Linked DNA regions of Homo sapiens: region 1 is linked to region 2. Evidence: fine-mapped expression QTL. A gene starts in region 2. The other region holds a variant in brackets. All regions are shown on one strand. Distances are from middle to middle.

Evidence for each region.
Region 1: its variant is fine-mapped to the expression of ERC2 in cerebellum (GTEx, PIP 0.96).

Annotation. Positions count from the first base shown.
Region 1 is chr3:56,163,410-56,168,794 of GRCh38, forward strand. All of the region lies in intron 4 of ERC2 (ELKS/RAB6-interacting/CAST family member 2), which reads right to left. Among named protein-coding and RNA genes, the nearest start is that of ERC2, 300 kb to the right of the region's middle. The variant T/C (reference allele first, on the strand shown) is at 3,024.
Region 2 is chr3:56,465,490-56,470,874 of GRCh38, forward strand. ERC2 (ELKS/RAB6-interacting/CAST family member 2) reads right to left here and starts at 2,978. Exons shown (of 18, transcript NM_015576.3): 1 at 2,759-2,978. RefSeq lists an enhancer at 1,632-1,926.

The DNA.
Region 1 (5,385 bases), 300 kb before region 2:
AGAATTTCTTTGTTAGTTTTCTGTCTCGATGATCTGTCTAATGCTCACAGTGGGGTTTTGAAGTCTCCCACTATTATTGTGTGTTGCTGTCGAAGTCTTTTCGTAAGTCTTACAAATTCATATTTTTGACTCTGAGTGCTCCAGTGTTGGGTACATACATTTTTAGGTTAGAAAAGTCTTTATCCTTTATCATTATGTAATGCCTTTCTTTGTCCTTTTTAACTGTTGTTGGTTTTAAAAGTCTGTTTTATCCAACATAAGAATAGTGACCCCTGCTCCTTTTTTGTTTGTTTGCTTTTTATTTGCACAGTGGATCTTTCTCCAACTCTACTTGGAGCCTATGTGTGTTGTTACATGTGATGTGGGTCTCTTGAAGACAGCAGACAGATAAATCTTGTCTTTTGATCCAACTTTTCACTCTGTGCCTTTTAAGTGGGGCATTTAGACTATTTACATTCAAGATTAATATTGATATTTGAGGTTTTGATCCTATAATGAAGTTGCTAGCTGGTTGCTTTGTAGTTTTGATTGTGTGGTTCCTTTATAGGGTCTATGGGCTAAGTACTAAGTGTGTTTTTGTGGCAGCAGGTATCATTCTTTTGTATCCATATTTAGAATGCCCTTAAGAATCTCTTGTAAGCCTTAAGTAAGCAAAGTTATTAATCATTTCCTTTATAATATTTTTCTTTATTTTTAATAACAGCTTTCATGAGCTATAATACACACACCATAAAATTCACCCTTTTAAAGAGTATAATTTAGAGGTTTCTGCAACCATCACTGCTATTTAATTCCAGAACATTTTCATCACCCAAAATCCAGTACACATTAGCAGTAACTCTTCTTTCCTCCTTCCCCCTAGCTCCTGGCAATCACTAATCTACTTTCTGTCCCTAATTTGCCTACACTGGACATTTAATTAATAGTATCATATAATATGTGGCCTTTTCTGACTGACTTCTTCCATTTAGCATAATGTTTTCAAGGTTCATCCATGTTGTAGCCTATATCAGTAATTTATTACTTTTTGTTGATGAATAATATTCTACTATGTGGATATGCCATATTTTGTTTCTTCATATATCAGATGATAGACATTTGGGTTGTTTTAGCTTTTGCTATTATAAATAATGGTAGCGTGAACACTTGTGGATAGTGTTTTGTGCGGACATATGTTTGCAATTCTGTTGGGTGTGTACCTACAAGTGAAATTTCTAGGTCATGTGGTAACTCTATGTTTAACATTTTGAGGAACTGCTAACAGTTTTCCAAAGAGGGCTGTACCATTTTATGTTCCCACCATCAACATATGAGAATTCTAATTATTCACATCCTCCCCAACGCTCATTATTGTCTGTCTTTCTTATTTTAGCCATCCTAGTGTGGGAGAAGTTGTATTTAATGCTGGTTTTGATTGGCATTTCCCTAATGACGAATGATGTTCAGTATTTTTTATGTCCTTATTGGCCATTTGTATGTCTTCTTTGGAGAAATGTCTAATTAAATCTTTTGCCCAGTTTTGTAATTCAGTTATCTTTTTATTGATGAATTATTTTTTCTTTATTTTTAAAGAAACGTTTTAATTAAAGTATTAATATAAGAAAGTACACAAATCATAGACTTTCAAAATGATGAATTGTGGTCAAGTGAACACACTTGGGCCAACCAGATCACAAAACAGAACATAATAGAAATAGAATATTACCTGTACTTCAGAAACCTCCTTCCTGGCCCTCCCAACCTTCACTTTTCCCTCCTCTTCTTCAAATTAACTACTATACAGATATCTAATACTATCAATTAGTTTAGCTTGTTTGGAGAACATATATTATATATGTTCTTTTGTGGCTGGCTTCTTCCAACATTATTTTGGGGATAGTATTCATTTACGCTATTGCATATGGCAATAGCTTTTTTTTTATTATTATACTTTAAGTTTTAGGGTACATGTGCACAGTGTACACGTTAGTTACATATGTATACATGTGCCATGCTGGTGTGCTGCACCTATTAACTCGTCATCTAGCATTAGGTATATCTCCTAATGCTATCCCTCCCCCCTCCCCCCTGCATATGGCAATAGCTTGGTCCTTCTCATTGCCATATAGCATTTCATTGTATGAATATTCCACTACTGTTTTATCCACCCTACTGCTGACAGCTGTTTCACTTGTTTAAAGTTTTTAGTTATTCTACATTTAGTTATGTGTTATACCTTTTTATTTAAATTAGGTCTTTTATAGCTATTGTTAGACTTGCTCTTATATATTTGGGGTTTTTTAATACCAGTGTAAGTGATATTGTTTTCTCAATTTCATATCTTAATTGTTTATAACTAGTATGTACAAATAAGATTCATTTTAAAATACTGGCCAGCCATTTGGCTAAATTTATTTACTAATCTAATATTGTATATATGGATTCACTGATATTTTCTACAGACTCGATTATGGTACTTGTGAACAAAAATGTTTTTTTTTTCTTTCTAATTTTTATACCTAGGATGTCCATAGCATTATCGAACAGAAGTGATGGTAACTGGCATTCTTGTCTTATTCCTTATATCATAGAGAAAGCTTTCAACATTTTACCATTGAACATGATATTAGCTATAGCTTTCTTGTAACTATTCTTATTAGATTAAGAAAATCCTCTACTTCTGAGTTTCTGAAAAACATTTTTGGGGGCCATGGATGGATGTTGCATTAATCAAATGCTTTTTCTGTACCTATGAATTATATTCATTTTCTCCTTTATCCTCTTAATATGGTGGATAACATGATTGATAGCCAAATATCAGTCCAACTTTGCATTCCTAAAATAAACACAACTTGGTCATGTCATTTATTTGTCATTGAGTTCAATTCACTAGGATATTTTCTACCATCAGTGTTTACTCAGGAGATTGCTTGTAATTTTCCTTTTTTGTAATATATTTGCTGGGTATGAATATCAAACATATGCTGGCCTCATAAAACAAGATGGGAAATGCTCCCTCTTTTTCTATTCTAGAAGAGTTTCTG[T/C]ATGATTGATTTCATTTCCTCTTCAAACATTTGGTACAATTCACTCAAAAAAGCCATCTGGGCCTCTAATTGTTTCTGTTTGGTTTGGGTTTTTAGGTTTTTGGTTTGGTGGTAAGATTTTAATTTATAGAATCATTTCCTTTAACATATAAGACTACTCAGATATTCTATTTCTTCTTAAGCAAGTTTTGACAAATTGTGTTTTTAAAAAGAATTTTTTCATTTATCTAAAATTTCAACTTTATTATCACAAAGTTGCTAATAAAATCCTCTCATATTTTAATGTTAATAAGGTTTATAGTGATGCCCCACTTTCATCCCTGATATTGGTTATTTTTGCTGTCTCTACTCTTCTTGCTGATTCTAACCAGGATTTGTCATTTTTGTGAATCTCTTCAAAAAAACAGCATTTAGTTTTGGTGCTCCACTCTAGTATATGTTTACCCTCTATTTATTTAATGTTAGCTTTTATGTTTATTATTTCTTTCTCTCCACCTTCTTTTTCTACTGGTTTAATGCGATCTACCACACCTTTTAAATTTACAATGTCTTCTCTCAATCAAACTGAATGATTTGCTCTGCCAAAGACACTCCTTATCCTTTCTAGACTCGTGGCTCTTATAGTTCCCACTGTTTATAAACCATATTCCCCTTTACCAAAATCATGCCAGTTTTCCAAGGCTTTCTCCAAATGCTACCTTCTCCAAAAAGCATTCTGTCTTCTTCTCTTATTTGATATCCTTTGACTCCTCATAGCTCATTTGCCCTTCTTAAGTCACTTTATAACCTGGTTTATGTACTTCATTCCATTAGCTCCTTAAAGACTTAGAACTCAGTTTTTCCTGAAAGCCTCATCATGGTGCTGTACACAAAATAGTTGCTCAGTAAACACTGGTGTTTATTATGCAACTTCAGGAGTTAGATTCACAAAAACTAACCTGGGTAATAGCAGGAATTATTGACTGGCAACATTTAGTCAAACATGTAGAGTCAAATATATCATAAGAAGAGTTTGGGGGGAAAGGGAAATAATTCTCATCTTCTAAAAAAAAATCTTACTTGCTTCTAAGTGACAACCATATATCATCTAGAACTAACATTTGACTTGACCATCACTTAAAAATCACATTTTGCCCATTATTTAAGGCAAATAGTTAAATGGGATAAAGGGGTTTGTTGTTGCTTTATATTGGGGGGTCCAGTTGGAAAATGAGAAGATAGAGAAATTTCCCAAGAAAAAAAAGTAAGCTAAAGGATAATTCTAATATTGTAAATGCACACTGCACATCAAAACACACAGTCCTTTACAAGTTTGAACAAGTTATCACACCAGGCTGTTAAAAAAAGACTTCAGAGCAAGACTTAAAATGCAGGGGGAGAAACAGGGCATATGTTGGCTGTAATGTACATATTTGGAGCCCTATTTGGAGCCATGATAACACATGCATGTAAAAAGGATGAGTTTTGCCTTTTAGCACAAAATACAGCTCTGCACCTTTCCAAAAATATCACATAAGCCACTCCATCTCTCATGAGCTGCCTCTACCCATTCTAGGATGCAAACCTCAATGCACAATTTCCAAAGTAAATGTTGAAAGAAAAAACGTTTGAACCTTTGGGCTATCTTTAGAAAAGGCAGAAAGAAGGAGTAAAGAGTGCAAGAGCTTTGAGGAGAAACTTATGTTCAAATCTCAGCTGCCAATCTGACTAGCTGCAGGACCATGGGCAGGTTGCTTATCCTCTCTAACCCGTAGCTTTCTCATCTGTGAATTGGGGATAACTCTGCCTATTCACAGGTTTATTGCACATCAAGTGCTGTAGCCCTTATGTGTGGTAGTGATGTTGCTGTCATTGGGTATTACTGGGGGTGCAGGTGACATCGTTGTTGTTAGTGCTGTTATTGTTTTTAATAGCCACAAAAGGAGCAGGGGCATATTCTTAAGGCCTAAAAGCCATCATCATAATTGCTTTACTAGAAAAACTGGGATTGGCACAAATTTCATATGAACACAGCATCCTTGGAGAAGATGAATGAAATAAACCTAGGTAGGCCCTACAGTCAAAGAAGTGGCAGCTACTTCATAGTGTCTCTGACCAGATTCCAGGACTCAGACAAGTTCATAATGGGTATTGGGTTGTGCTGAGTAGTCTAGGTTTGCCTTTGAACTCTCTCCCCTTTCCAGTTATATGAAACTTGGTAAAGTTGCGAAGTAGTAGTTCTTGACTTCACAGTGTTCCAGTACATCCCTTTCATATTCTGTGGAACTAAACAGGCTAAATTTGACCAAATACCAAGATACCTTTTAAGTGAAACTTAACCCAGCTGCAGGTCAGCTCCATGCAGAACAACAGTTATCTGCCT
Region 2 (5,385 bases):
GGGTCTCTGTAAATAACAAAGAAAATAAAACCCTAATCCCTTGGTGGGGAGACAACTGAAGGATGTTAAGAGCATTTATTCAACCAAGATCTATTTAAAACTCTAATTGGAAATTTAAGGTGTCAAGAAAAATGGAAGAGTGTGAATTTTGTTTTGTTTTACCTTCTTTTAAGTCATCATCATTAAGTTTGGAACCAAATTTTTATCGAGCCAAAATTTTTATTTTATTATGTGTTATATTTTTTATATTTTATTATGTTTCTACTGGAAATATATAATAAACAGAGTTACTAAATTTGCCTATTGGCCCATGCCACAGCCTTCAAATGCAAAGGCAAAACAGGCTGATAAAAGGACTGTCAGAATCACAGTGGACTCTTAAAATGGTTAGCTCTACGTATGCTGGGAGAACCCACACTTCAGACTGGACACATGCAGACTACACAACCAAAATTTGAAGTCAAGGCCACGGCCAAGGTCATGGGCTCTGGGTAAGACGAACCCGGGCTCAGGTTCTTGCTTTCATACTAAACTGTGGCAAGATACTGAATTCCTTCTAGTTACTCATCTATAATTTGGGCGTAAGAATAGTACCTACCTCACAGGGGCTCCACAAGGTTTAAAAAAGATAATGCATATAAAGTACTCAACAAAGTGCTTGCCTATGCAATAACAATGATGATGATAGTAATAGTAATAATACTGCTTTGACAAACCCGGCTTCTACATGAAAACCATTCTAATCAGTATATTCTGGCTCACAGTCTGTTTATGAAAGGCTTAATTCACAGAATTATGTTCACATCCAGGTACAACTTCTATAAAGTGACAGCTCTTTGGATCAATCAGTAATTTTTCTAATGAATTCAGGGAGAAGGGTGTTGAAAAATCAGGCTTTCACTAGTAGTGAGTTGAGATGGATCTGGTCCTTCACCCATGATTCATCCACCCGTGAAAGTCTTGCTGGTGAAAACCATGACACCATCACCTTCCACACCCCTCCCTGCCAAAACTGTAAAAGTATTTTATTAAAGCACAGAAGCAAACAGACAAGATGGCTTACATGAGAAAAAGGCAAACTCTACTACTCCCCGGAAAGAAAATGGCTTGACCCCACCACCACCGAACTGACATTCTGCAAAAGAGAACAAGGCAGCCCTCACTTCCAGAAGTTGAGTTAACTGTCAGAACTAAAAGAATCCCTTCTATTCATGTGACTCCCCATAAAGAACGTTTGCCGGCTCCAAAAATACCTTATAAATCCATCCAGTAGAGCCAAGCCCCAAGTACTGTATACTGAGAAACAATGTGACTTTACAAGGACAAGAGTGACCATAGGAGACAAAGTGCCACACCCTTTTCCCGGATAGCTCAACGGTACATGTTGTCTCTTATAAAGACTGCAATTCTGGAGAAATAGGTGGGCAATTCTAACACCCCCTCCCCCAATTCCTTCTTTACACAGATTCATTTTCATTTTTAAGCCAGTGGCCTCGGCATCCGCAACTACTACAACTAATAATCAGGGGGGTGGTGGGTAAGGGATGGGGAGGACAAGGAAACACAGGTCAAATATACTTGCTTCTAAAAGTCCATTTTCAAAGAGTTTTCTTCCCGCTTGTCTGCCTCTCACAGCTGTATCCCCATACCAGGTGGAAACCAATGGTTAAGTAAAATCACTGATTTAAAGAGCCAACCAGGAAACTAACCATGACAAGTGGGAGCTGCCCTCCTCTCCCGAGCATTGATTGGTTCTTTGGGTTCCACCGGTCCCCATTCTACCCACGTAAGTGGCAGGTGTGGCTGTCAATCACAGAGGGAACCGACAATTCACCGCTCGGGGAGTAAATTGCCTTTCATACAGCAAAGGCAGGTAGCCGCCTAAAATCGATCCACTCCTAAAAGAGCGGACCCTCCCTCTCTGGCAAGGAGAACAGAGACCCTTAAGTACAAAATAAATAAGGCAGGGCCGAACGGAGAGTTTACGAGCGCTATTTTATTACCCCGAACCAAAGCAGCTCTTAATCTTCACTGTCCTAAGACGATCTTTCAAAGGCTCGTACGGTATTTTTTTTAATTAGGTACACCTTCGTAAGTATCCCTTTTTTTGTATAATTAGGAGATGGGGAGGAGGAGAGAAGGGATGCCGTTCAGTTCAATTTCACATCGTATTCCTTTTCATACACCATCCCCTAGCCCTCCCCGATAAATCGGCTTCATTTTCCCTGACACGGGTTTTTTAAAAAAAAATATGCTCCCCTCTGAACCCACCCAGGCGGCCAGCCACCCCACCCCCGGGCGGGGGCTCCACCTTTCTCCACTTTGTTCTGCTTAGGATTGCTCAAGACCCCCGACCCCGCGAACACCCCACCCCTCGAGGCAAGAGGGGACGCCAGGCAGAAGAGGGGGATCTGAGAGAAGAAAGGCGATGGCAGTGAGGGTGGCTGCCGGAGAGGGACTGCGGGAGGTGGCCCGGGCAGCCGGGGCTAGCGAGCGGCGCCCGCGCGCTGGAGGAAACCGTGCACTTGTTCCAATCCGGGGGTTTATACATCAGGGCAAAGCCTCCCTTAGGCCGCCCCATCCCTCCCCCCGCCCAAGAAAGCCCCGTAGGAGGCGGATGGTTCACCCTTAGGCTCCCCACGATAACGCATTGCAGCTCCCCACGAGCGAGGGGGACCCGGCACGAGGAATGCCCGGGCACGGGCGCCCCGAGGGAGCCGGGCACCAGGCGGCCCCGGCCCCGGCGTCGGCGTCTCACCTTTCCGATGCTCGCCCCGGGGCCGTCCCACATGGATTTTTACAACCTCTCGTCGCCTTGGCCCCGGGCGGCCAGGAGGAGCAGGAGCCGGCGCCGGAGCCGGAGACCGAGCGAGCAGGAGCGGGAGGCGGAGGAAGAGGAGGAGAAGCGGGGCGGGGAACAGGGAGGGAGGAAAGAAGGGAAGGAGGAGGACACTGCTCGGAGGGCCAGGGCCAGGCGCGGGGCCGGGCGGGGCCGGCGGCCGAGGGGGCGGCACCCGCCGCAGTCCCGAGACGCGCGCTCGCGCGGCGCTGCCAGGCGCTGCGCTCGGCGGGGCCCCCACCCGGCCGGCCGGCACGCTCGCCCGCTCGCAGAGGCCCTGACTCACATTCCCAGCATTCCCGAGGAGCCGCTAGGGGGGACGGGGCTGGGGCCCGGGCGCCTCCGCTGGGGGCAGCAGAAAGCGCCCGGCATGGGCGGGGGTCTTCGCAGCGCCTCCTCCCGGCAGGCCGCGGCGCGAAGCACCTGTCCCCAATCTTCCATCCCCGACGCCCCTTCCCGGGTACCCCCCTCCAAAAGCTGCCAGGCACACTGGGAACTTGTCAGGTGGCTTTGGTGACAGGGGCAGGGATGGCACTTATCTTTTAAGTTAAGCATTGGAGTAAGGGGTCGTGGTTACCATACCCTGGCACCGTCCATCAGCTTTAATGTTCCTTAGGAGGTTGAAAGAATTTCATAAGATCTTCACTTTATTGTTCCCCCAAAGAAAGGACAGAATGAAAGATAAAGACAGGAACAAGAGAAAAGATCGCATCCGTCATATTCACTGGGTGCCTCTTCTGTGCCCTGAAATGTGCTTGCATTGTCCCAATTTAAGGTAGAAAGATGATGTCTGAGTTGATACGCGCGCACACAGGCAGATACACACACACACCTCAAGGTAATGAGCAAGAGGATTTGGACAAGTTTTTCATTGGAAAAAGCTTCCACTCAACAAGTCTGGAGCCCCAGCTGCTGCCATTTTATATTAGGGAGGGTACTGGGATAGCCATGGGCATCTTTAAACTTGGTCTCTTTCACTGAGTAGTCAATTTGCAGGGATAGAGCAGTCATTTCCTTCCTGTCCTGATGAGTCTGCTTCCAGCAATTTCAGTGGCCAGATCTAAATTTCTCCTGCTGGGAAGCTCAGACAAATAAAGCAAATCCAGCCATGGGATGTTTGGGTGCGCAGAGGCATAGAATTAGTACAGCGATTAGAGGATGGATCCTTCTTTCCTCCCCGATAGGAATTCAATTTTTTTTTTTTTTTTTTTGGAGACAGAGTCTTGCTCTTTCTCCCAGGCTGGAGTGCAGTGGTGCCATCTCAGCTCACTGCAACCTCTGCCTCCTGGGTTCAAGCAATTCCCTGCTTCAGCCACCTGAGCAGCTGGGATTACAGGAGTCCATCACCACGCCCAGCTAATTTTTGTATTTTTAGTACAGACGGGATTTCACCATCTTGGCCAGGCTGGTCTTGAACTCCTGACCTCAAATGATCCGCTGACCTCAAGCTTCTCAAAGTGCTGGCGTTACAGGCGTGAGCCACCGCGCCCCGCCGGAATTCAAATATTAAATGATTCCTGCTCAGGGAATCAGACTCTGAGAGACAAGGATGCCTTCCTGTTCCAGCCCAAATGCCTGTTCCTTAAGCCTGTACACCTCTGGTAGCTAAGGTTTTTCATAGACTCTCTTTGCCCTCATCCTCTTCTTTCTCTCTCTGAGAAATCAACACTCATTCTCCTGACCTAGATGCTCCAGGGGCAAAACCAAGCTCCACCTATTGTGTTTTGTTCCCCACATACATCCTTGACAGCCTCTGCTCAAAAGGCTTGTTGTATATGAGAGCCTTGTTGAGAGTCCTTTGAGAATTCCTAAAATCCCACATCTTTTGAAACGTGGCCAACATTTTTTAGTACCCCCCTCTGTGCAGGCACTTACATTTTCTCAACTATTCTCACAAATATTCTATAAGATGTTTACCAACTTTCAGAAAAGTTGGGTAACATACCAGGGTGATCCCATGAAGAATTTATTTAAATCAATGCCTGAGGTTCACTCTGGTTGGCCACCCATTCTCTTTTCCTTTGATCCGTGGGTTTTAAAAGGAACCCTTGACATTCAGGGGATCAATTTATTATGTACATGCTTATGTACATTTTTCCCACAGAGAGAAGATTCATGGTTCTCAACAGATTTCTTTCAAATTGGGTCCTTGACCCAGAAAAGTTAAGAATAATTACTTTAAATAGAAAGTGACTCTACATAGTAAAACGAAGAGTGGAAGTTATAGGAATCTTAAGCAAGTCATCTTTATCCTCTCTGGGACTTAGTTTTCTGAAAATAAAAAGCGGAACTAAAGAATCTTAAGATTGCTCTCAACTCTAACATTTTCTAACTTTAGGTTAAAATACACATATATGTGTGTATAGGTACACAAATACATACACAAACACACACACACACAAACAAACACACCCTCGCAATATGCTAACAAGTAGCCATTGTGAGATCTAACCCTTCAGGACAGAAAATTCTAAAACATATTATATTTTCTAAAACATGGTCTGTTGCTCCAGGGTTTTTTGTTGTCGTGGTGGTTTGGTTTGGTT